Regions from separate parts of the Homo sapiens genome. Here regions 2, 3 and 4 are each linked to region 1. The links come from fine-mapping of genetic effects on gene expression. A gene starts in region 1. Each other region holds a variant in brackets. All regions are shown on one strand. Distances are from middle to middle.

Region 1 (6,139 bases):
AATCAAATATGATTATCCCTATTTTACAGATGGAAAAACTGTTGGTAACAGTATCAATGACCTGCCCAATTTCTCCAACTTCAGATTCACTAACTTAACAGCATCTTTTGGAAAAAATTATTTCCATTTCACAACTCTCATTTCTAATTTTTAAAAGAAGTTCCTTCCACTTTTCTGAATAATGTGTACAAGACTGTCCTCCTTAACAAATACGAAATAGATGAGAATAAATTATTAACATCCTGATTGAAGTAATACAAATTTCAACTGTTTACTGTTATTTATAGCATCTTCTTTGAAAGGCAAAGAAAATAAATATTAAAGTGTATTTCAAATTCTCTACACCAGTTAGTCATATCGCAGGAAAAAAGCTGAAAGTACACCCTCCTGCTCTTCTAAGAGTTGTTTCCATTAACCAGATGTGAGTGTAGCTGGCAATAAAGATAAAAATCCAAACATTTCGGAAAAATGATCTGCTCTGCCTGTTTTATCCCTATACCTATGAAAATTAAACATCCAAAATGACTCCCAAGATTAACTAAAAAATAACTAGAATACAACCTAGCCACTTACCAAAGGACCTGTTGAGAAAACAATCATCTAACTGGAAGACCACCTATAAGTTTCACTTATTCATTTTCTAAGTCCATCTCAAATGTCACTTCTTCTTCTTTTTTTTTTTTTTTTTTTTTTTGAGACAAAGTCTCGCTCTGTTGCCCAGGCTGGAGTGCAATGGCGCGATCTCAGCTCACTGCAACCTCCACCTCCAGAGTTCAAGCGATTCTTCCTGCCTCAGCCTCCCGAGTAGCTGGGATTACAGATGCCCGCCACCACGCCCAGCTAATTTTTGTATTTTTAGTAGAGACGCGGTTTCACCATATTGGCCAGGCTGGTCTTAAACTCCTGACTTCAGGTGATCCACCCGCCTCGGCCTCCCAATGTGTTGGGATTACAGGCGTGAGCCACCACACCTGGCCCTGTCACTTCTTCTATAGAGCTTTCCCTAAAGACTCTAGTCCACTGATGTTTCCTCATTTTGTTTTAGCACACTTTGGACATCATCCTGTGTAACAGATCAGATTTCAATAATCTGTTCATAAGCTTATGTCCCTTACTTTGAGGTTCCCAGAGGGCAGGAAATATATTTTTCATCTTTGAGGCACTAGGAATAGAATATACAACTGCTGTTAAAGTAAGACCAAACACTAGGCCTTAAAGGTTGGTTACTAAAATATTTAATGGAAAAACCAGTGTACTTGCAAGTCTAGATCTTCCACTTGGAAGCACAACAACAGTCTTTCAGTCAGAATCCTCAAAAAGGAGTGAAAGCTTCTTGCACTGCAGAGTATGAACTTAAGTACTGAAACACTAACTGCAGACTTGAGTAAACCTTAAATATCCTTAGATATTTTTTCAGATACAAGGTTTTGCACAGATGTATAAACATGTCATTCAAGATAGCTGACAACCTAAAAAGAAACTGCAAAATGTTATGAAAAATTTAAAGCTTATCTAATGCCCTAAAATAACCTCAAAATTCACAGCTATAGTAAAGCTAACTGTAATAAACACCAGCTTAAAAAAATCAAACTTAATAAATAAGCCTATTTATAGATTGTAAACGTTTGTTGAACGATTATTTGAATTGTTGAAATCATTAAAGGTTTCAAAGAGATCCTCATCCCCCAAATGTTAAGTTTTAAATAAACTTAACGAAATAATTGTGTATGTATACTGTAAAGCCCTACACCATATAACCTAAAAGCAGGTTACTTTATTTACGCCTCTTTTACTAGCAATTAAACTGAAAACCTTGAGTGTGAATGTTGTAAGAGATCAAAGTTTTCAAGACTTGCCCTAGGAAAACACCAGTTTCTCCCACCATTTGCCCCTTTTAAGTGTTTAAAACCATCTCAGAGAAAATAGTGAGACCTCGTATCTTTTTTTGTGTATTAAAATCTTTTACACTTAAAACTCAGAAATCAAGTGCCTCAACCATTACAGCAACTCTTTATTAATGCACTTTGTGTGGCTCTGGGTGTTATACTCCACAAATAAGGAACCAACTTCTAATTGTGAAGCGAGATATCAAAGTCCTAGAAAGAACAAGCTCTCCTAACCAACTAGAAGGTTCCAGGAAAATGCAATTAAACAGGAAGCAATGAAGTTAAAAGCTAATGGAAACTGTTAACTAGGCTGAGTGTTGCTCACATGTAGGGAGTCGGTCACCCGCTTCCTCAGCGTACATGTTACAGGGCTGTGAGCGAACACTCACGCGTGGACCTGCATACATCCAACTCCAAAGCTCTGAGGCGTGAAGCCCAACTCCAAGGGCGCTCCACACGGTCCCTGTTCCAGGAAAACTGAATACAGCTGCTCGTGCCACTTGGCCCGCAAGACGGGAGGCGAGTCTGAGGCCCACTGCGTCCTCCAGAAACTACCCTTGCAAGGGCTGTTTCAGAGCCCCCCACCCACAGCCCAGCAGACCCCAAAAGCTTCTGGGGAAACTCAACCCCACCCGCTGCTACGCCCCCTTCCCTCGCTCCCACCCGAGGATCAGCTCCCCCGGATAGGGACGACTTCCCCTTCCAACAGTGCATCAGAGGGCTCGTCAGGCCTCACCCACCTTGCACTCGTCGCTCTTTTTTTCTTCGTCGCAGAAGTTGACGGGCGCCAGGCCGGGCAGGTAGAAAGCGCCGCTCCGGCGCGGGCCAGGAACCGCCCCCAGCAGGAGCAGCGACAGCAGCAACAGCCGCGGCCACCGAGGTGGAGACAACACCGGCAGCCTCGCGCTCATGATAGTTGTTTCGGGGAAAGGGCAATCAAACCTAGGGGGTCAAGAGGGAAGGAGGGGTGGGGAGTCTCGGAGACGACTACAAGGCCGCCAGAGATAAAGGAAGCCGGCCCCCAGAAGGCTAGTTCCGGTTGCGCTAGGAGACACCCCGGGTCCCGCAACAGAAACCGAAGCGGACCGCAACAGAGCATGCGCACCGCCGTCTGCACATGCTCAGTGAGAACGGTCGCAGGCACCAGGAGGAGTTTCCGGGAGGGAGCGGGGGCGAAATCCACTTTCCGGGTTTTCCGCGCGCCAGCTGAGGTGGTTGCTGGGAGAGGTGGTTGCTGGGAGAGCTGTTCCGGCGCTCACGTTCCAATTCCAAATTACAAATTCCGATCTAGAGCTCCCACGCTTGGGGGCTGTGGAGCGCTCGCCAGCCGCTCCCCGTTTGCTGCTGGGTCTTACGAAGTTCTCATATCCATCATACAGTTTCTTTGTCACACTGTCCGCGGCACGCCAGTCCCTATGACAGAAAGCACCTGCGGTCTGTCTGGAGGCGGAGTTGGTGGCGGAGAGAAAAAGTTCTGGAGACACCTGGTTGGGAGCAGGCTAAGGAAACAAATGGGGAGGAATTAGCCACAAATCCTCAAATAGACAGCTACTCAAAGGCATCTTCACGGACAATTTCCAAGCATTGGATGCAGTGGTGCATTCTTGCATTGGGCAGTGATTGTGTGCACACATCTCTTTAAGGGAGAGTGGAAATGGGGTGAGGAGGAAAATGGGAGTAGGATAGAGTGTAGCGTTGACATTTATTTTCTTTAAAGGAAGACCCGAGCATACCTGAGAGCTCAGTGAAGAAAGTAGTTCTGGCGAATCGGATTAATATGGTATGATCAGCCTTTAGCAAGATTCTATCACTTTTCCCACTGATGATGTGAGACGGTGTCCGCGTGTGTAAGTGCACACACGTGTGTGTGTGTGTGTGTTGCATCTTCTGAGTATTTTTCAAGGAGAAGCTTTTTAGTGATCTGAAAAAGTCAATTCAGTTAGCCACTAGAGTTCAATCAAAAACTTCGGAAGAGTGCATCATCTTAAAGTACATAAGAGAGAATCATGACCTCCAGCTCAGAATTCAAGAATAGGCAGGTTTGTGAAATAGTAAGCTCAGAAAGTTGAGGGCCAGTGAACTCCTATTTCAAGTTCTTGCGGGTGTTTGTACTTTTTTCCCAGGTAAGGTTTATAACTTTCATCAGATTTTCAAAGGGACCTAGGACCCTGCAAATTGATCCATATAGTGGGGTAGCCAAGTTAATCAAGAGAACTGGGAAGTAGAAAAGAACGTTCATCTTAAGGTTGTTGTGAAGATTAAATCAAAAATGGAGGGAAAGTGCTGAGCACATAGCTTGGCCCAAGGAATGGCACTTTTTTTTTTTTTTTTGATAACAAAAACTAATCTGGTAGGGCCTGAGCAGAAAATTGTGCCTAGGTGGCTTCCCTTTCATGTCCTCTCCCTCAAATAAATCAACATATTCGCTGAACTTTGGGATAGGGAAAAATTGTAAAATATTCTGTATTTGGAAGTCATGGAGATTTCCAATATAACAAAAGGAAGCAGACGTTTTCTCCAAATATTAAGAGGAGGAAACAAAAATTAACATTTTTGCTCACTATCTTCTTTTCCTAGCACCACTGAAACTTGACCTTCGGCCGGCGCGGTGGCTCACGCCTGTAATCCCAGCACTTTGGGAGGCCGAGATGGGCGGATCACGAGGTCAGAAGATCGAGACCATCCTGGCTAACACGGTGAAACCCCGTCTCTACTAAAAATACAAAAAAATTAGCCGAGCGTGGTGGCGGGCTCCTGTAGTCCCAGCTACTTGGGAGGCTGAGGCAGGAGAATGGCGTGAACCCGGGAGGCGGAGCTTGCGGTAAGCCGAGATCGCGCCACTGCACTCCAGCCTGGGCGACTGAGCACGACTCCGTCTCAAAAAAAAAAAAAAAAAAACAAAAAAAAAACTTGACCTTCATTATATCTCACTGCCCTCATCCCAAACATTTCCTCTCCCAGTTTTCCAGGAAACGGCATCGCTGCCCATCTCTTTTCAGGCCCCAACCCTGGAGAAGAACCTAAATTTCTCATTTCCTCACTACCTACCTCCAGTCCTTCAGCAGGTCCCGTTGGTTGGGCTGCTAAACTATGGGCTAAATCCTTTCAGTACTTTCCATGCCCACAGCTACCACTCTGGTCCAAGCCAAATTCTTAGTTCCCCTGGACTTCTTACTGCAGTAGCCTCTCAGCTTCCACTCTTGGCAAAATCAATTTTATAAAACCTTGAAATCCCTTAATACCACTCGTCTGCTTAAACCTCGGCATCCCACATTTACCACTATCAGGAAGGATCACGTTTGTTTGTTTGCTGTCTCATTCCCCCATTTATATGTGAATTCCACGGGTAAGGGCCTGCTCCTACATCCCACACCTCTACATCCACAGAGCCTAGAGACCGCAGGCGCGGGGAAAGCACTCCACGACCATCACTGGCCAGGCCACAAGAGTGCTGGATCTAAATTTGGAACCGGACTTTCAGAGCTGAAATAAACCTGAGGTTTTCCAGGGGCTTTTAACCTCCTTTTACAGCCAAGGATGCGCCTAAGAAAGGGGAGAGGCTTCCGTGACTTCCTGCAGTAACGCAGCCACTAGAGATTGAGACTACAACGACTTGGGAGTCTAAAAGTCTGCAACCTTTTCCACTCCAGAGCTCAATGTTTCCTCAATCCCCCGGGATCGGCATCAGCAAAAACCCGGAGAAGCGGAGCCTTTCTCAAAGAAAATGACCTCCAGACTCATGCTACCATCTCGACCGGTGCAAGTATCACGCATGCGCAGGGCCGGCCGCCCGGCCGCACCTCGCCAACTCCTACTCGGACACGTCATCTAGGTCGGCCTGGGTCTGGTGGGAGGGGCCGGGGGCGGGGCTCGTACGCGGGGCGAAGTGGTCCCCCTACTTCCGGATCCGGCCTCACCTGGCCAACGCCTCATTCGGGGTTCCTTGGTTACGTGGCTGCGGTGTCTACCCGGTGCTGGGGCGTGGCGGAGAGAGACCGCCCCGCCCTCCACGCAGGCCACAAAATGGAGGCCCTGCCCTGTGGGCTTTTGTGGCCTGGGCGCTGTCGTGCCGAAAGACGAAAGTGACAATTCCAGTTGCAAACTGGAAAGAAATGGAGTTTTTCCTTCATTCTCCCCATGATCGTGACGGTCCTTTTCTCAAAGTACTAATACTTTTAATGGGACTGTAAAACTTGAGGGATATGACTCTCTCCTCTCCTCTGCTTCAGATTGCATTTGCCAACTCTGATTTA
Region 2 (6,139 bases), 68 kb after region 1:
CACAATAGTGTTTCTGGTGCAGGAGGAGATTTTTATTGTTCACAGGGCAGAAGTGTGAGACAGGACCTGGTATATACAGGTACTTCATCTGTTGTAAGATAAAAAGCTATTAAATGTAGCTCTGCTATAAAGAAATTCTTTTTCTTGGAGCCTTGAGAAGCCAAGCGGTTACTCTAAAATGCTCTGGGACAATTATCATGGAGAGCTCAAGGCAGTTGAGGAACACAGACTCTGTGGTCTTGACTATATTTATTTTCTTCTTTGTGTTTGCAAACATGTGCCATGCTTTCTACAAGAGCATGAATTATTATAGTTTAAAGATTCACATTCATCAAAGCCAGTCCCAGCTGAGGCAGATACAGGTGAGTGATACACGATGGGGTGCATGCTGAGGTCAGGGAATCCATTCATCAGCACGTTTGTATTCAGATCTCAGTGTGTGCATAGCACTGCGCTTGGTGAGGAGGGGAGACAGGAGGCGGAGCCACAGTCCTGCCATCAAGGGGGAGGAAAGGGATGGAAGGGAAGGGACCTTTAGCATTTATTGTACCCCAGACACAGTTTATACACATGTGACTCCCTTAATATTCACAAAGGACCTCTGAGGAGCTGTTATTATGATCCTCATCCTGCAGAGGAGCAAACTGAAGCCCAGAATGGGAAGCTACTCTGCCAGGTAAGAGCAAAACCTGCACCTCCGGAATCCCTACCTGCCCTGCTCTGCCAGGCTTAGGCCCACGAAGGATTCATTAACAATGTCAGGCAGGCAGTGTGGACCATGGTAGGGGAAATGCCCCAATGGGAAGGATAAAGGAGTTTTGGCCGTCAGTGACTCTTATTTGGGAAACCAAGAAATTGCCTGGACTTTCCCAAAGGTACAGGGAGGTTTGGACGTGTTAAACTGGAGCCCACATGGTGGCGCGCACCTGTTGTCCCAGTGACTGAGCTGGGCTTGAGCCCAGGAGGTTGAGGCTGCAGTGAACCATGGTCCTGCCACTGCACTCCAGCCTGGGCAACAGATTGAGACCCTGTCTCAAAATAAAAATAAAAATAAAAATAAAAAAAGTGGAGCCCAGCTGGAGGCAGAGACAGGCCCAGCAATGAAGAAACAGTGAGCTGAGAGGGGTGGAGAGAATGGGGTCCCTGCATGCTTGCCAGAGTTCCCCAAGGCATTTCCAGTTAATAAGTAAAATGTATTTAAAATGTGAAGACTGGCTGCCAATCCCTCACGGAACTCCCAGACTGGACTTACTTTCATCATCCTCTTGGTGCTGTTGAGCCAGGTGCGTTTCTAACAGCCCTGCTGAAAGACAGCCAATGGCGTAAGACTTTTCTTTTTTCACATAAAAACCCACTAAGCTTCCCGCAGACATCAGGCCTTTCACCTGACTCAGGGCCCGCGGTTATACCTGTGTAGACCTACGTTAGCAAACAGCGGCTTATCGGAACTCGGGCCCTCTGACATCAGCCAGGAAGGAGCAGGCTATGCTGCTGGGAAGTGCAGGCCTGAAAGGCTGTTTTTCTTACTGAGTGAGCAGTAAGGTCACCCAGATAACCCACTCCTGAGTCACGAGGCCTTTCTGACCTATGACTCTGGAGGGCAGCTCTGTTTATTTCTTCTTTGTGGTGACAATGTGGGTGTCACCTTGAGGAGCCCATTGAAGAAGTTCATTGAGTGAGAAGACTCGGCCGGGTCTCCGGGGCCGCTGTAACAGACTCAGGGCTGCAGTAACAGACTCAGGCCACCGTAGCAGACTTGGGGCCTCTGACGACAGAAATGTATTTCCTCGCCGTCTGGAAGCTGGGAGGACCTGGTTCAAGGTGCGGGCAGGGCTGCTTTCCCCTGAGCCTCTCCACAGTGTCTTCCACCAGGGGCTTCACGTGGTCTTCCCTCTGTGTGCGTCTGTGTTCTAATCACCTCTTCTTGTAGGGACACGAGTCATGGGACCTTTTTTAATCATAATCACCTCTTTAAAGATCCTGTCTCCAAATACAGTCCCATTCTGAGGTACTGGAGGTTAGGACTTCAACCTACAAATATGTGGGGGTGCAGTATGCCCCTGACTTCGCTGGAAGTGATGGAGGTGAAGTTGGTCAATGGTTTCCAATGCTCTGCTCTCCCTACACTGATCGGGGACTGGCCTCTGTCAGGCCTTGTGAGGTGCCTGTGCCCACCCACTGTGAGCCAAAGATGGAGGCTCCCAGAGAAGATAGTCCCAGCCCTCCCCCACTAGCCTGGAACCCATCCTTCCAGCTCAGATCACACTCTGAGGAAAGAGATCCCTAATCCAGGCAGCTCAGACACCTGCTAGGATTCTCCAGACCCCCGCGAGAGCGCACCCTGTGGTCCCGGGAGAGGGCAGAGTAAGCCATACCTCAACAGCACTCCACCTGCTCAATGGCATGAAACAGTTCCACATCTGCTGGACCTGGAGGAGGTGTCTTCCTAGGTCACCTACATGCAGGGCACCATGGCGATTTGGAGATACAAGTGCCACACACAGAGACAGAGCCACGGCCTGCCTTATCCAGCTGCCCCCAGCATTTTTTAAAAAATTAGACAGGGTCTCACTCTATTGCCCAGGCTAGAGTGCAGTGGTGCAATCACTGCTCACTACAGCCTTGCGCTTCTGGGCTCAGGTGATCCTCCTACTTCAGCCTCCAGAGTAGCTGGGACTACAGATGTGCATCACCATGCCCAGCTAATTAAAAACAATTTCTTTGTCAAGACAGGGTCTCAATACAATGTCCAGGCTGGTCTCAAACTCCTGGCCTCAAGCAGTCCTCCTGCCTCGGCCTCCCAAAGTCCTGGGATTACAGGTATGAGACACTGTGCTGGGCCCCTGTCAATTTTGGAAGGATCCAGTTGTGTTTCTTCATTCATTTAACACATATTTGTAGAAAGCAAATCCGTGCCAGGCATAGATGCTTGAGATTCATTAGCCAACGAAACAGAAAACAACCTGTGACCTCATGGAGCCTCCATCCCTAGCGGGACGGGTACAGCAGGGGCTTCACCCAGAGAGGCTTCCTGTGAAAACGCCCACTGGGTCCTGGGGAACTGGGAATCCCCGGCCGCTTCTGCACAGGGCTCCTGGGTGGTTTCCTGTTTCGGCTCCACAGCCGGGGGAAGTTTCTGCTGTTTGCTCCTCTGCACTCTAAGCGGAGATGTGCACACTCGCGAGCAGGGATTTTTCTGGTTCAGGAAAGTCCTGCGTCCTTGGGCGCACTTTC[A/G]CAAGTGTGAGAAAGCCAGTTCAAATGTGACTTCCCGTGAGAAACCCTGCCTGGCCTCCCGCCCTCCCCGGCACTCTCAGCATGAATCATGCTGCGTTGTCACTATTGTCTTGCTCATCTGTGCCTGTCGCATTCCCTGAGTTCCTCCTGGCGGGGTCTCGGCCTTGTTCATCTTTGGACCTGGTGGCCAGCACAGAGAATGTGCTCAATGAATGTTTGCTGGATTGAATGACACACCCTCAGGTCCAAGTGGGCCATGCCCCTCTGCCTGCAGCCTGGTGGCCGTCAGGGTCAGGGCTCCCATGCTTTCTGATACCCGGGAGGATGGGTCTCTGACCATGGGATTTTGAAATAGCAATGAGCCTGAATAACATTTTGAGATACTGGCAACAACGAAAGTGTGGAATGAAACTTCCCGTTATTTCTGCTGGCTAACACTAAGTGGTTGCCACCTATGTTCATAATACAAGGAACTGCTCAGTTTCAACCAGAGGTGAGTGAAAACAGATGTCATTGTTTTCCCATGTCAGTTCATGAGCCCTCTGGGTTGTATTCTCAGGTCGCTCGAGGGTCCACTTGTGCTCCATTTAGAACCTCCGGACTCTACCGCTCATCCCCCAAGTTAGCCTGTCACCTTTCAACTCCCAGGGGCTCAGGTGTCAGGGCCTTCGCGTTGCACCTTAGCCTTGGTGTAAGTCACGTGCCCTCAGCTCCTGCCCCTCTCCCTGAGTGACGTCCTCTCTACAGACAGAACTGGGCACTTTCTCCTGCTCCCCAGTGGACCCGAGGCACGAAAGCCTCAGCAAGCAGGGAGTGACAGGCACAGACCACAGCAACCACCCGCAGCCGGAGCAGAGTTCGCGCTCTCCCAGGGGCCCTCCTTGGTGGCTTTGGGGGGGCCTCAATGCCAGGGTTTGCATCTTTTCTTTTCTTTCTTTTTTTTTTTTTTTTTTTTGAGACGGAGTCTCGCTCTGTCGCCCAGGCTGGAGTGCAGTGGTGCGATCTCAGCTCACTGCAAGCTCCGCCTCCCAGGTTCACACCATTCTCCTGCCTCCGCCTCCTGAGTAGCTGGGACTACAGGCGCCCGCCACTACGCCCGGCTAATTTTTTGTATTTTTAGTAGAGACAGGGTTTCACCGTGTTAGCCAGGATGGTCTCGATCTCCTGACCTTGTGATCCGCCCGCCTCGGCCTCCCAAAGTGCTGGGATTACAGGCGTGAGCCACCGCGCCCGGCCGCATCTTTTCTTTTTCTCCTTTTTCCCAACTACTGCTGTGCTTTCTGGCTTTGTGCCTTCCTTCTTTGCTTCCTCTCCCATCACTCCACAGACAAGGAGGCTCTGTCCAAGCTCCTGTCCTGGCTCGCTCAGCCCAGCCTTCAGGTTCTCAGCCCAACACGAGGGTCTCCTTGGGTAGTCAGCTCAATCATTTCAAGCTATTAATCAACGGACTTCTCCTGAATGCATCCAGACCTCTCCTCAAGGTTAGTTTTGATGAATACAATTTTCTCCATCTTGTTACAACAGGGTCAACGGTTCTTTGAAGAATCTTGCTCCTTTGGGACTTTTTTCCCACGGATGTGCCCTCTTTGGGGGCAAAGACATGATCCATATCTATCACCATCTCCTCTTTTTCTGCAATCACTGGACACCTGTTCATTTGGGGCAACCTAGGGCAGCCCAGAGTCCCTGTGGAGTCCTTATCTCATCGGGACGCTGGGTGGGACACGAGTAGTTTATGACAAACAGGTTTTTCTGACAAACGCAAGCAGGAGGAATCATTAGGGAATTGATAATGTAATTCACTGCACTGAGTCGTACAGGCATCTCAATAGACACCCCAAAAAGCATTTGGCGAATGTGAATATTGTTGATGAAACTCCTAGCAATCCAGGCTCAGAACACCTCATTCCTAACTTGGTAAGGGTGGCTACAGAGACTCTCAGAGATTAAGACATATAACAGCGAAATCTAAGAGAACAGGGGTGCCTGCCATCACTGCTTCTCTCCAACCTTGTAATGTGGGTCATTGTCAATGTAGTAAAGTCAGAAAAACGGGCACGAATACTAAAGTGAACAAAACCAAAATTGTCACCATTCCAGATGATGTGACAATATGCCTAGAAAATCCAAGACATCAAATGAAAACCTAATCTGAGAGCTTGGTGACATGGTTGGATACAAGATTGCCATACAAAAATCAATGGCTCTCACATCCGTTAGGATGGCTATTGTCAAAACAAAATCACAAGTGTTGGTGAGGAGGGGCAGAAATCAGAACCCCTGTGCGCTGTTCGTGCGAATGTAAAACAGTGCGGCCTCTATGGAAAACACTATGGTGGCTCCTCAGAAAATTAAGTCTAGAATCACCTTAGGACCTGGCAATTCCACTTCTGGGTATGTATCTAAAAGAATTGAAAGCAGGGACTTGAAGAGAGATTTACACAATCATGTTCACGGCAGCATTATTCACCTTAGCTGAAAGGTGGACGCAACCCAAGTGTTCATCAACAGATGGATGGATAAAGAAAACGTGATATATGCTTACATCAGAATATGATTCGGCCTTCAAAAAGAGGGAAATCCTGACATATTCTACAACAGGATGACCCTTGAGGATGTTATGCCAAGTGAAATAAGCCAATCATGAAAGGATAAACACTATATGAATCCTCTTGTATGAGGTCCCTAGAGTCATCAAATTCTTAGAAAGTAGAATGGGGGGTGCCAGGGGCTGGGGGAGGGGAAATGGGGAGTCAGTGTTTCGTGGGTACAGAGTTTCTGTTTGGGAGGAAGATAAAGTTCTGGAGATGGATGGTGGTGATGGTTACACAACAATGTGAATGTATTTAATGCTATGTAATCATGTTTAAATGGTAAATTTTACATTATATGTATTTTACCACAA
Region 3 (6,139 bases), 25 kb after region 1:
TTATCATACAAGATTCTTTCTCATATGAAATTATTTCTCTTTAAGTTTCTTACCAAAAAAAACCCTCATTATTTTTATAACTTTCTTTACATCTCTCTTATTTCCTGGTTCCTTTTACCTTGTTTTATACATGACCTTTAAATAAGCTTTGAATTAGACAAAAAATTGTTCAAATGTTTTTTTTTTTGAGACAGAGTTTCGCTCTTGTCACCCAGGCTGGAGTGTAATGGCACAATCTCTCCTCACTGAAACCTCCACCTCCCAGGTTCAAGTGATTCTCCTGCCTCAGCCTCCCGAGTAGCTGGGATTACAGGCACCCGCCACCATGCCCAGCCAATTTTTTGTATTTTTGGTAGAGACAAGGTTTTGCCATGTTGGCCAGGCAGGTCTTGAACTCCTGACCTCAGCTGATCTGCCCACCTCGGCCTCCCAAAGTGCTGGGATTATAGGCATGAGCCACTGCGCCCGGCCACTGTTCACCATTTTTTTTTTTTTTTTGAGATGGAGTCTCGCTCTGTCCCCCAGGCTAGAGTGCAGTGGCGTAATCTCAGCTCACTGTGAGCTCCGCCTCCTGGGTTCATGCCACTCTCCTGCCTCAGCCTCCCGAGTAGCTGGGACTACAGGTGCCTGCCACCATGCTCGGCTAATTTTTTGTATTTTTGGTAGAGACAGGGTTTCACCGTGTTAGCCAGGATGGTCTCGCTCTCCTGACCTCATGATCCACCCGCCTCGGCCTCCCAAAGTACTGGGATTACAGGCGTGACCCACCGTGCCCAGCTAAGTTCACCTTTTTTAAAAGGACAGATTTTTTTTTTTTTTTTTAGAAATAATGTTTTCCTATAAATATATTTTTATTGGAAAATACCCAAATAATGAAATATTTATCATTTAGTTTAATATAACTTTAGATTCTAAATTATGAGTTTGTCTACAAGTATTTATCCTATTACATTTACCTAATTATTTCATTTTAATTGTTTACCTAGATTATTTATGAAAACTGTGATAGTCATCATTTAAAGCTATGGAACCGCCATTGCAAAATTGTAACTGAGACGTGAAAAGATTTGACCTAACTGACTCCATTTTGCTTTTAACCTCCAAGGTGTCCTTGTTCATTCCTGGGCATAGGCCAAACTAACTTTGGGAGGAACTTAGTTTATATTTTAGCTTGAAACAAAGATGATAACAAACCTTACTGGCTGTGGACTAGACCACCTAAAGCCATAAGATTAGAAGTTATGGTAATCTTACTAAATTTGAGATGTAGCTATTTTTATTAAACCAATATCAATGTCTTATTTATTAAAGACTACACAAGCAAAGATCATTCTGTTTTGGGTTGGGTTTATAGTTTTGTAACCCCTATGCCAAATTTTGATGCTTTGTAGTATCTGGTAGGGATAGGTATGAAATTGAATCTCGGTCTCCAAAAAGGGAGAATTATTATGAGGCTAGACCATGTGATGCTCTTACAGTGCACTTAAAGAAAAAAACTTTTTTTTAACAAACATATTTCTAAGTGTCTAAACCACACTCTTCCTTAAAAACCCGAGAGTAACCTCTGTTGCAATAACTATTTTAGTTGAAAAACACACCAGGTAACACAATACAAAAGTAAGCCGTTTAAGAGCTGAGATGAACTTGTCTGTTTACATTCTTGGGGTTCCATAAGGAAAAACAGGTTTCTCCCTCAGAGGGAGTCTGGCGCCTTCTCAGTTTTCTTTAAGGAACCCCAGGCTATTATAAACTATTTTAGGTTACCCATGCTACAGAGAGTGCAAGAGAAAGAAGACACAGCAGAAGTAAATGAAGAAAACAGAATTCGGTCAACTGAGAAGAAAAAAACTTTTGCTGAAAAAAAAGACAAGATCCTAGGGGAAAAACAAAAGCAAAAATATGAAGGCCTTTTAAATACAAACACACACACATGCACACATACACACACACGCACACATACACACACGCACACACACACGCACACATACACACACATGCACACACACACCCACATGCACACATACACACACGCACACGTACACACACACGCACACATACACACACACGCACACATACACACACACGCACACATGCACACATACACACATGCACGCACACATACACACACGCACACATACACACACGCACACATACACCCACGCACACATACACACACGCACACATACACACACGCACGCACACATACACGCACACACATACACACACGCACACATACACACACGCACACATACACACACGCACACATACACACACGCACACACACACACACGCACACATACACACACGCACACATGCACACACGCACACATGCACACACATACACACACGCACACATGCACACACATGCACACATACACACACATGCACACACACATACACACACGTACACACACATGCACACACATGCACACATACACATATGCACACACACATGCATACATACACACACGCACACATACACACACACTTCTTGAATGTTAGCTTTTAATTAAGCTGACTTTTCATCATTGAGCTCCTTTAAAAAAAATCTTTTAAGATCTCATCACCATATTTCAGCTAGGACAAATTGCTGCTATTTCAGAAGTACAGCCATTGCTCTCTTGGTTGGGCCTCGCTAGCAAAAAGGTGGCCTTGTTATGTAAATAAAGTCCCTTAGTAGTCAAAATGAAAAATCTTTCCTCTTTTTTTTTGGTTTCCTTTTCCGGCCGTTTTTCTCCCCCACCATACCACCTTTTGTGTGTGTGTGGGGGGGGGGTGGCGGGGTGGAATTTAGCCACTTCAGAGGCCTTGTTCCCCATAATTTGGAACTTTCCTTTGGATTTGATCAAGCCGGATAGAGTTGATCAAACCCAGTGGGAAAAAGACTGAAACAACAACAAGAACAGAAACAAACGACAACAACAAAAAACGCAGTTAAGCAAAACAAATGATCGCACAACTTATACAACTATTGAGCGCTCTAGTGGTGAGGAGAAATTAAGACAAGCTGGTTGTTAATCTTAACTTTAGCCAAGACAAACCCCAATTCAGTTACTTACCTAGGGATGGGTCTCAGGCTGAAGACTGCTCTCTATCACCCTAAAAGCAGGAAAAAACCCTCATCCTTCTTGTTGGAAGTGAGCTCAAACTCCATAAAGGAGTTACCTGCCTTCCGTTGTCATGGAAGCAGGAAAAACTTGCCTTCCTTGTTGGAAGCAAGTAAAACTCAAAAGAAAAAGGGAGTTGTACAGCAAAATAAACTTTAGATCTTGACCAAATTTTGGGAGATCAGGGATTCTCTGGAGGGGGTTCTCCCAGACCTCAGCAAATTGTCCTATTGGCTTGAGCCATAAAATTAGCTCATGCTGGTTCCAAGCACCAATAGATTTGTCAAAGGTCAGGGGCACCTCCGCTCAGAATCCCTTCATGGTTACCAAAA[C/T]TTGAACCCAGAAAATTTGAGACAGGTCTCAGTTAAATTAGAAAGTTTATTTTGCCAACATTGAGGACACACACTTGTGACACAGCCTCAGGAGGTCCTGATGACATGTGGCCAAAATGCTCAGAGCACAGTATGCTTTTATACATTTTAGGGAGACATGAGACATCAATCAACGTATGTAAGGTGAACGTTGGTTCAGTCCAGAAAGACGGGACAACTCAAAGTGGGGAGGGGGCGTCCAGGTCATAGGTAGATAAGAGACAAATGGTTCCATTCTTTTGGGTTTCTGGTTAGCCTCTCCAAAGAAGGTAATCAGATATGCATTTATCTCAGTGAGCAGAGGGGTGACTGAATAGAACGGGAGACAGGTTTGCCCTAAGCAGTTCCCAGCTTGACTTTTCCTTTTAACTTAGTGATTTTTGGGGCCCCAAGATATTTTCCTTTTACACACTTTTAAACAACCACATCTCGCGAGGACAGTACCAAGAGAATGATATTTAACCATTCATGAGAAATCTGCACCCATGATCCAATCACCTCCCACCAAGCCCCATCTCCAACACTGGGGATTACATTTCAACATGAGATTTGGATAGGGACAACATCCAAACTATATCAGACTGGGTCTTGCTCTGTTGCTTAGGCGGGAAGTTTGACAGTTTCCTACAAAGTTAAACATACACTTACCATATGACCCATTAATCCCACTCCTAGGTATTTAAACCCTAGAGAAATGAAAGCTTATGCTCACACGAAAATTTGTGTGTAACTACTTATAGCAGCTTTATTCACAATCACCAAAATTGGAAACAACACAAATGCCTTTCAACCAGTAAATGAATAAACAAACCATGGGAACAGTCATACAATGGAATAGTACTTAGCAATAAAAAGGAATGAACTATTGATACATACAACACCACGGATTAATGTCATACACACTGAGTCTTAGGAGGTTACATTCTCTATGACTCTATTTATACGACATTTCAAAAACCTAACACCACAGTGACTGAAAACAGATCAGTAGATGCAGAGATTCAAGGGAGGGAGGTGTGACTATCGAGGTATATAAGAGGGGATTTTGAGGGGGTGATAGAACTGTTGGATAGTCTGATTTTGGTGGGGGCCACACAAATCTATACATATCTTAAAATTCACAGGAAGATTTTTTAAAATATACATATATATTTAAACAAAAAAGAATGGAAAGACACACGTGAAAATACCAACAGTGGGTTATTTCTTTGCAGTTGAATAAAGGTGATAGTTGAATAAAGGTGATTCCCCCCTTTTGACTATGTAATATTTCTATTTTTAGAAATAATGAACACACGTTTTCTTTGTAAAGAGATGTCATCGGCCGGGCGTGGTGGCCCATGCCTGCAATCCCAGCACTTTGGGAGGCCAAGGCAGGCGGATCACCTAAGGTTGGGAGTTCAATACCAGCCTGACAAACATGGAGAAACCCCATCTCTACTAAAAATACAAAATTAGCTGGGCATGGTGGCGCATGCCTGTAATCCCAGCTACTTGGGAGGCTGAGGCAGGAGAATCGCTTGAACCCAGGAGGCAGAGGTTGCGATGAGCCAAGATCGCACCATTGCACTCCAGCCTAGGCAACAAGAGCAAAACTCCATCTCAAAAAAAAAAAAAGAGAGATGTCGTCGTATAGAAAGGTAATATATATATTTATTTACGTATGTAAATGCATTTTGCTATTGGACTAACTTGAGTGATGCCTGGCCTTGTTTCATACTGGTTCAGCCTTCTGTGGGTAAAGGAGCTTCACCCCATTACTGGAGAAACATCTTTTGGATGAGATGTTTCTTTTACTTATAGAAGAACTGGCAGTGCTCTCATCTCTCCATCAATCTTCTGCTTTGCCATGGGCCATAGCGTGAAAAGTGCTGGCCTCCACTGCCTCATTAGGTTTCCCATTAGCATCCATTAACCAACAACTTTCATTTCTTGGTGTGCAGCCAGCATTCCTTAGGAAATGAAAAAAACATCGACGTGATGATGCCATCATCGACTAAATATCGGCTTCCCGTCCTCATCAAGTCTGGATTGTCTTGCAGGACTTTCATCAAGTATTAAGTATTAGGAAGCTGCCAGGAGTTCCAATGGCACTTGGCTTATTTGATTTTGCTTCACAAAAATAAACAAAGTTACACTGGGCGAAATTTTTAAATTGTTTTATCCAAAGATCTAGAGAGAAGAATGTAAACCAAGTGCATTTGGCCTCCTTAGTCAGTTTTTGCAGCACCCACGACAGAATTCTGAGATTCTGAGGAGCAGCATGGACCTCAGATGCACACCCCTAAGGGAAGATGGCAGTCAACACTCCCAGCCACGCTGGGGGATCCCAGCCTCCCGCATCCATTCCTGCCATGACTACCAGCAGTAAGTGAGGCCACAGGCATCCCACAGGGCAATGCTGTTTTTCAAAAATCCACAGTTGTTATCAGACACTATGCTTCAAGTTGGCAATTTGGTAGAGCAATTGTCTGCCTTTGAGAATGACACCACACAGCACAAAGATATCACTAAAGCCATTAACAGGCATTTGTAACCTCTTAAAGATTTGGCCTCGACTCCCATTATTAGTTCTGGAACCTAAAATAAAATCAAATAATTCTTTTTTTTGTTTGTTTGTTTGTTTTGTTTTTTTCAGGATGGAATTTTGCTCTTGTCGCC
Region 4 (6,139 bases), 43 kb before region 1:
CAGCACACGTCATCAGCGCTCCTCGGTTGGCAGGTGACAAAAATCCCAGGCAAGCGAAAACTAAAACACAAATCGTGAAAGGCTGTACATGTTATTACTCTGTTTCCTTTGCTGTGAAATGATAGAGAAACCCTCTCATTTTTCAAACAAGAAAAAAATACAACTTCACGCAAAACCATGTGCTCTCCTACCATGCAGCTCTACACAATCTTAGTAATATTTACTGTACTGCACCAATCTGATCATACATGAGGCAAACTTCACTTTGGAAGTTTCTTCTCAGAGTCCAGAATGAGAGATCACATCCTTCCTGTGATCAGGGGAGGCTGACTGGATGCTCAAGAGTGCATTTGACTCTTCTGAGATTCAAGTACAGCCTTTAAAATTGACATAAGTGAAAATGTTTCCACTACAAAATATTCCCACTGTTCTTTCATTAAAAAATATGGGGGTCCTCTGGGGGTAAAAAAAAAAAAACCCAAAACCTTACAACATTCAAACAGAAGAGACATATATAATCTAATGAAAGAACAAAATGAGGGAGAAAGATTTCATACGGCCATTAGCTTTTCACAAATTACGGAAGGACCTTGTCAGCAATACGGGGAAACCCTGGCCCTACCTTATTCACGTGGTTAGCTTTGTTTGCTCTTCCCTATGTAAGCCTTCCTACTAATGAGAATTAAAATGCTATATTATATTCATAGAAATTCCCAGCTTTAAGCTGGGGCTCAGAAGTTATAAGGTGCTCAGAATCCCAAGGTGAGTAGGATACTGCTGAGAACTGAGTTTCAGGAGGCTCAGCAAGAAAATCCCCATTGTTTCCCCCCCTATTGTTTCCCCTAAAACGTGCATGACCAAGCACGTATGTGAGCAAGCACGCGCACACACCTCTGACAAGCACCAGAGTCATGATGAGCAGGAAACACATCAGGGTAGCTTTAGAAGATGTACAAGATTTCAGCTAAAATGCAACCCCTTTCTCCTCCTCGACCTGAAAAATGGACTGCCCTTCGGCAGAAAGTTCCTATTTGAGGACTTAAGGAAAATTATTCCCATCGTATTCTATCCTAGACTCTCTGAAACTTTCCTTCCTTAAAAGTTCACTTTTCTAGCTGACCGCAATAAAAACCAGAGCATCGCAGAAGACAGCTCCTAATAAGATTTGAAAGCAGGAGTTGGCTGGGTGTGGTAGCTCACGCCTGTAACCCCAGCACTTTGGGAGGCCGAGGCGGGCGGATCACGAGGTTGAGAGATTGAGACCATCCTGGACAACATGGTGAAACCGTGTCTCTACCAAAAATACAAAAATCAGCCAGGCGTGGTGGCAGGCGCCTGTAATCCCAGCTACTCAGGAGGCTGAGGCAGAAGAATCACTTGGACCTAGGAGGTGGAGGTTTCAGTAAGCCAAGATCACGCCACTGAACTCCAGCCTGGTGACAGAGCGAGGCTCCGTCTCAAAAAAAAAAAGAAAGAAAGAAAGCAGAAGTTTATCTTCAAACATTCATTCTGCTCTAAGTCTAGTTTGGCTCTCTGTCACCCAGTGCCTTCACCCTACCACCCTCTGTCCAAACCTTTTTTATGACACCTTTTCCTGACCTATTCTCTTTAGTATGACTTAACTTCTCTTTAGTATGATATAGTTACAAATTCTAGCTCTACCTATCAAAATTGTATCTCCTTAAGTTGTTAGTAGATTAAAAAAAAAAGATATCCTAGTCAGTCTTCAAACTGAACCTGAAGGTGTGAGTTTGGTTCCCAAACTTATTCAGTGCCAGACATTTGAAAATGATACTGCTCTTTGCAAAGCATTTATATAATTAATTTTATCATAAAAATTTGGAACAACTTTACTAACAAAAATAACTGTGGTATTATGTATTTAATATGTAATCAAACATAAAAAATAAATGTTTACTAAAAAATTATTAAAGGTTAGTTTCTGAATTCTCCCAGTATATTCATTTGTTGCTATTTATCAGTAGCAGGCATCAATAAAGTAAAATACATTAAATAAAGGTAAAATTTAGAAAATTCTATTCATAAACCTTTTTTATCTTCCAATTAAGGAAACTGGAAGACAGTGGAATTAACATATACCCAGAGGTAGTTTCAGAACAATCCCTGTGGCTATCAATACCTCTAAGGAACATTTATTTAAAAAAAAAAATTGTCCTAGTTGGCAAAAATTTAAATACAATTTCTGAAGTCGCTGAGGTAGCTCAAAGAAGAGAATCTTTTTATGGAGGAAGGAAGGTCTTTCCTACACACTCGCTTTCCCTAGAGGAGAGAGATCCTGCTTCCCAAATCCTCCCCAGATGAGAAGGATCTACACAGTGCTTCCTGCCCCATCCCTTCTTTTCCCACCCTCCTCCCTCCGTGGAAGCCAAGAATATCCTGGAACCCTAACCAGACTGTGCCTGCCCACGATGCCTGGGTAAAAGAGACCCTAAATGGTCCCAGTTCTGGGCTGTTTAGACTCAGATGCTGATGGTCTTAAGGACCTGTTCATCTCCAGCCCAGTGCCTCCCTGACAAAGGCTTGGTCTAGGAAGAGCTGAAGGGAGAAACCAAGAGTCAGTCTTTGGGTGCAACTAAACCTGCCCCAAGTCACTTAGATTTTGAGAACCTAAAGGATGCTCAGAAATAATCTGGCTTACCTACCCACTTAGAAAAACTGTGGTGTTTTTT[G/T]TTTTTTTTTTTGAGATGGAGTCTTGCACTGTCACCCAGGCTGGAGTGCAGTGGCGCAATCTCAGTTCACTACAACCTCCGCCTCCCAGGTTCAAGCTACTGCCTCAGCCCCACAAGTAGCTGGGATTACAGGCACCTGCCACCATGCCCAGTTTTTGTATTTTTAGTAGAAAGACGGGGTTTCACTATATTGGCCAGTCTGGTCTCAAACTCCTGACCTTGTCATCCACCCGCCTTGGCCTCCCAAAGTGCTAGGATTACAGGCATGAGCCACCATGCCCGGCCAGAAAAACTGGTTTTTAAGCAATTACTGTATTTAGAAAGTATTTTCTACTTGAAAATTTTCAGTTAACACTTACATAGAGTCACAAAGGTCATAATTAAAATCTGTGTCCCGGATCCTAGAAAGACTGATAGCAGCATCCCTTTTCTTGGAGGACGGAATATATCACCATGAACAAGTTTCCAGCCAAATTCTTCCTGGGCATCTTCCTAAAAGGGGAATGAAATCAGTTCGATTGTCTCATGGTATCAACAAGACAACTATAGACAGTTTGTTCACTGTTGAATATGCTGTTACAGAAAACAGGTTTTTTTTAAACTTAAAAATGTTAGTACCTATTTCAATTTTGAAGAATACAGCTTGACTCATGGAGCTTAATATGGCTTTGCTGAACTGTCTTATATGTCAGTTTCTTAAATTTATGACATTAAGGTCTACAAATATACTTATTGAGAAACTTTACAAAGACAATGTGATTGCTACCTAATTCTACTCTAAGTCAAGCTTTGTGATCTGACTTGATGACGATTTTTAGTCACATTCTATCCTCTTCATCCTACTCTTAATGATCTCCACAATAAGCAAATGGCATTAGCTCTCATATTCTAGCTACTTTGCTAATACAGTAAGCATGGATGTAAACATTCATTGAGCACCAACTATAAGCTCGGCTCTGTTTAAAACACCAGATACCACAGTGAGTGTAACAGAAAAATTCCTACTCTCAGGAGTACATGATCTCATTGGGAAGGCAGACAATAAACAAAATAAGTCAGGAAAGTATACTGTACATTAGATGGTAATAAGCGCTGTACAGAAAAACAGGATGTATGGGTGTGTGCAGGACAGGATGTAACATATGTGATGGCTGGGAGGGGTTCAATGGGAAGATCACATTTTGTAAAGATCGGAGGGAGGTAAGGGAACTAGCCATGTAAATGAGGGGCAGACCTTCTTAGCAGATAAAACAGTGAGCTTCGTGAAGGCTCTGAGGTGGAAACCTATGTCTGCCTGGTCTGAGGAACAGCAAGGTAGCCGGCACAGGTGCAGCAGAGTGCTGAGGTAACGTGGGGCCTTAGAAGCCACTGTAAAGCCTCTGACTCTTGCTCTGACTGAACAGAAGTCCCTGGAGGGCCGTGCTCAAGAGTGAAATGATCTGACTTCTGTTTGAGCAGTTTCACTCTGACTGCTGTGCTAAGAGATGGGAAGTAGGACAGGGTTGTGGAAGCAGAGTCACCACTGGCCTGGTTCCACATGGCAACGCTGTGCAAATTAAGATAAAACTCCATTAACAGCAATTATGTGGAACAGCCAATTATAAACAGAGTATTTTAAAATCATTTTAATATTTAATAAGACATAAAATCAATAAAAATCATAGGAAAGAGACTATAGAGTACAAACGTTAAAAGCTTATGAATATTCATATATATTTTCCCCAATCAGAACAGGTCAGAGAGGTTGGGGGACAGGAGGCTGAAGAAGCTGGGGGAAGAGAATACAATAAAAACCTGAGTTTTTTGCATTCATTCCAAATTACTGTGATTCTTGTGAAAATTCTTTTATTATGCTGCCATGAAATGAAGAGTAGAAAATGTGTAACACTGTGCAACTTAAAAAGTTTGAGACTAAAGAGGCTGGAACATGCAATTATTTTAAATATATCAAAAGGTTGAAATGATACAAATTTGTTAAGATTAATTTTAAAAAATTAACCACACAAATAAAAATTGCTTAGGAGTTATTCCATTCAACTTTGTGGTTTCACAAACAGGTATGTGTCAGGGATGGAGAAACCTTACAGAGTTGTAACTGTGCACCTACACCCCACGCTGCACCAGTCCATTCCCACACAGGAGGCTGTGAACAGGTCAGCTCCCAAGGCTGTGCTGACTCCATTTCTATTTTTTTTTTTTTTTTTTGAGACAGAGTCTTGCTCTGTTGCCAGGCTGGAGTGCAGTGGCACGATCTTGGCTCACTGCAGCCTCCGCCTCCTGGGTTCAAGCAATTCTCCTGCCTCAGCCTCCCGAGGTAGCTGGGGCTACAGGTCCCCACCACCACACCCAGCTAATTTTTGTGTTTTTAGGAGAGATGGGGTTTCACCATGTTGGTCAGGCTGGTCTTGAACTCCTGACCTCAGGTGATCCGCCCACCCCGGCCTCCCAAAGTGCTGGGATTACAGGTGTGAGCCACCGCGCCCAGCCAAGAATATTAATTCTTAAGTATCACTTTCTTATTTGAAAATGTGAATTCAAGATAACTTTTGAGAAGAATTTTTTTGTTTTTGTTTTTGTTTTTTGAAGAATGTTTTAAAAGCAGATTCTAAAGCTATTATTTTACCTTTTTGCAAAATAACAATAAACAGTGTCCTTGGCAGACTAAAGACTAAAATGTTTCCACTTACCGTAGAGTCCATCTGATTATATCTAGCAATATCTTTGTGCAGTGTCCGTAACATAATCATAGCTACCATTCCAGATAAGAAGAGAACAATGACCAGGGAATTCATAATGCTGTAGAAATAAGCACATCATGAGTAATCTGTAGCTTAATCCTAGGAACAGTAAAACTCTTTTAAAAACTGTTTATTGAGTAACATTAAAACAGTCTTGATCAAAATCAAAATGAAAGCTATCTGAAATCCAACAAATTCAATGAACTGTGTTCTTTCATGTTTCCCTCCAGTAGATAAATAACATTATATACTTATCATAATACAGTTTCATAGTCTGTTTAGAACTAGAATTTTTTGGTACATGGTCAATATTATGAAATAACTACTGTGCCCAAATCACTGCCACAACAAAGGACTGGCTTGTGCCCTCAAGAAATTTACTGAAGAACAACTTTACTCAGTAAATTAGTGAGTGTCAAAAAGATCAGACAGCAATAGGAAAAGGAGAGTTATGGCAACATGAACAACTCTAGATAAAAGTTTTGAATCATGTTTGAAGGGGATAATAATAAAGTCATAGCAACAACAGCGGCTTCTGTTTCTGAACACTCTTATGTGCCAGACAATGTCCTCAAATATTCTGTCCCATGATGTCCTTTAATCCTCACAACAATCCCATAAGGTGGGTATTTCTAGATAAAGAAACAGACGCTGAGAAATTAAGGGACCTGCTGTGACTCACAATCAGTGGCTGAAAGCCAGGATTTGAAC

The links. PIP is the estimated chance that this variant, and not a neighbour inherited with it, causes the effect.
Region 2: its variant is fine-mapped to the expression of TM9SF2 in whole blood (TOPMed, PIP 0.98).
Region 3: its variant is fine-mapped to the expression of TM9SF2 in whole blood (TOPMed, PIP above 0.99).
Region 4: its variant is fine-mapped to the expression of TM9SF2 in whole blood (TOPMed, PIP 0.98).

The regions. Positions count from the first base shown.
Region 1 is chr13:99,498,265-99,504,403 of GRCh38, reverse strand. TM9SF2 (transmembrane 9 superfamily member 2) reads right to left here and starts at 2,932. Exons shown (of 17, transcript NM_004800.3): 1 at 2,627-2,932. The coding sequence starts at 2,797. It overlaps LINC01232 (long intergenic non-protein coding RNA 1232), which reads left to right and starts at 5,098. Exons shown (of 5, transcript NR_110731.1): 1 at 5,098-5,718. LINC00449 (long intergenic non-protein coding RNA 449) reads left to right here and starts at 3,341. Exons shown (of 2, transcript NR_133664.1): 1 at 3,341-4,009; 2 at 4,464-4,681. RefSeq lists enhancers at 2,552-3,140, 3,047-3,226, 5,505-5,624, 5,635-5,844.
Region 2 is chr13:99,429,975-99,436,113 of GRCh38, reverse strand. LNCARGI (lncRNA antiviral response interferon signaling inducer) reads left to right here and starts at 3,364. Exons shown (of 2, transcript NR_197585.1): 1 at 3,364-3,727. RefSeq lists enhancers at 2,788-3,517, 2,525-3,724, 3,968-4,047, 4,058-4,237. The variant A/G (reference allele first, on the strand shown) is at 3,235.
Region 3 is chr13:99,473,218-99,479,356 of GRCh38, reverse strand. No RefSeq gene overlaps it. Among named protein-coding and RNA genes, the nearest start is that of LINC01232, 23 kb to the left of the region's middle. The variant C/T (reference allele first, on the strand shown) is at 3,440.
Region 4 is chr13:99,540,906-99,547,044 of GRCh38, reverse strand. It overlaps TM9SF2 (transmembrane 9 superfamily member 2), which reads right to left. Exons shown (of 17, transcript NM_004800.3): 9 at 5,378-5,486; 10 at 3,050-3,182; 11 at 1-60. Among named protein-coding and RNA genes, the nearest start is that of LINC01039, 33 kb to the left of the region's middle. RefSeq lists enhancers at 618-767, 3,735-3,794 and a silencer at 4,145-4,214. The variant G/T (reference allele first, on the strand shown) is at 2,691.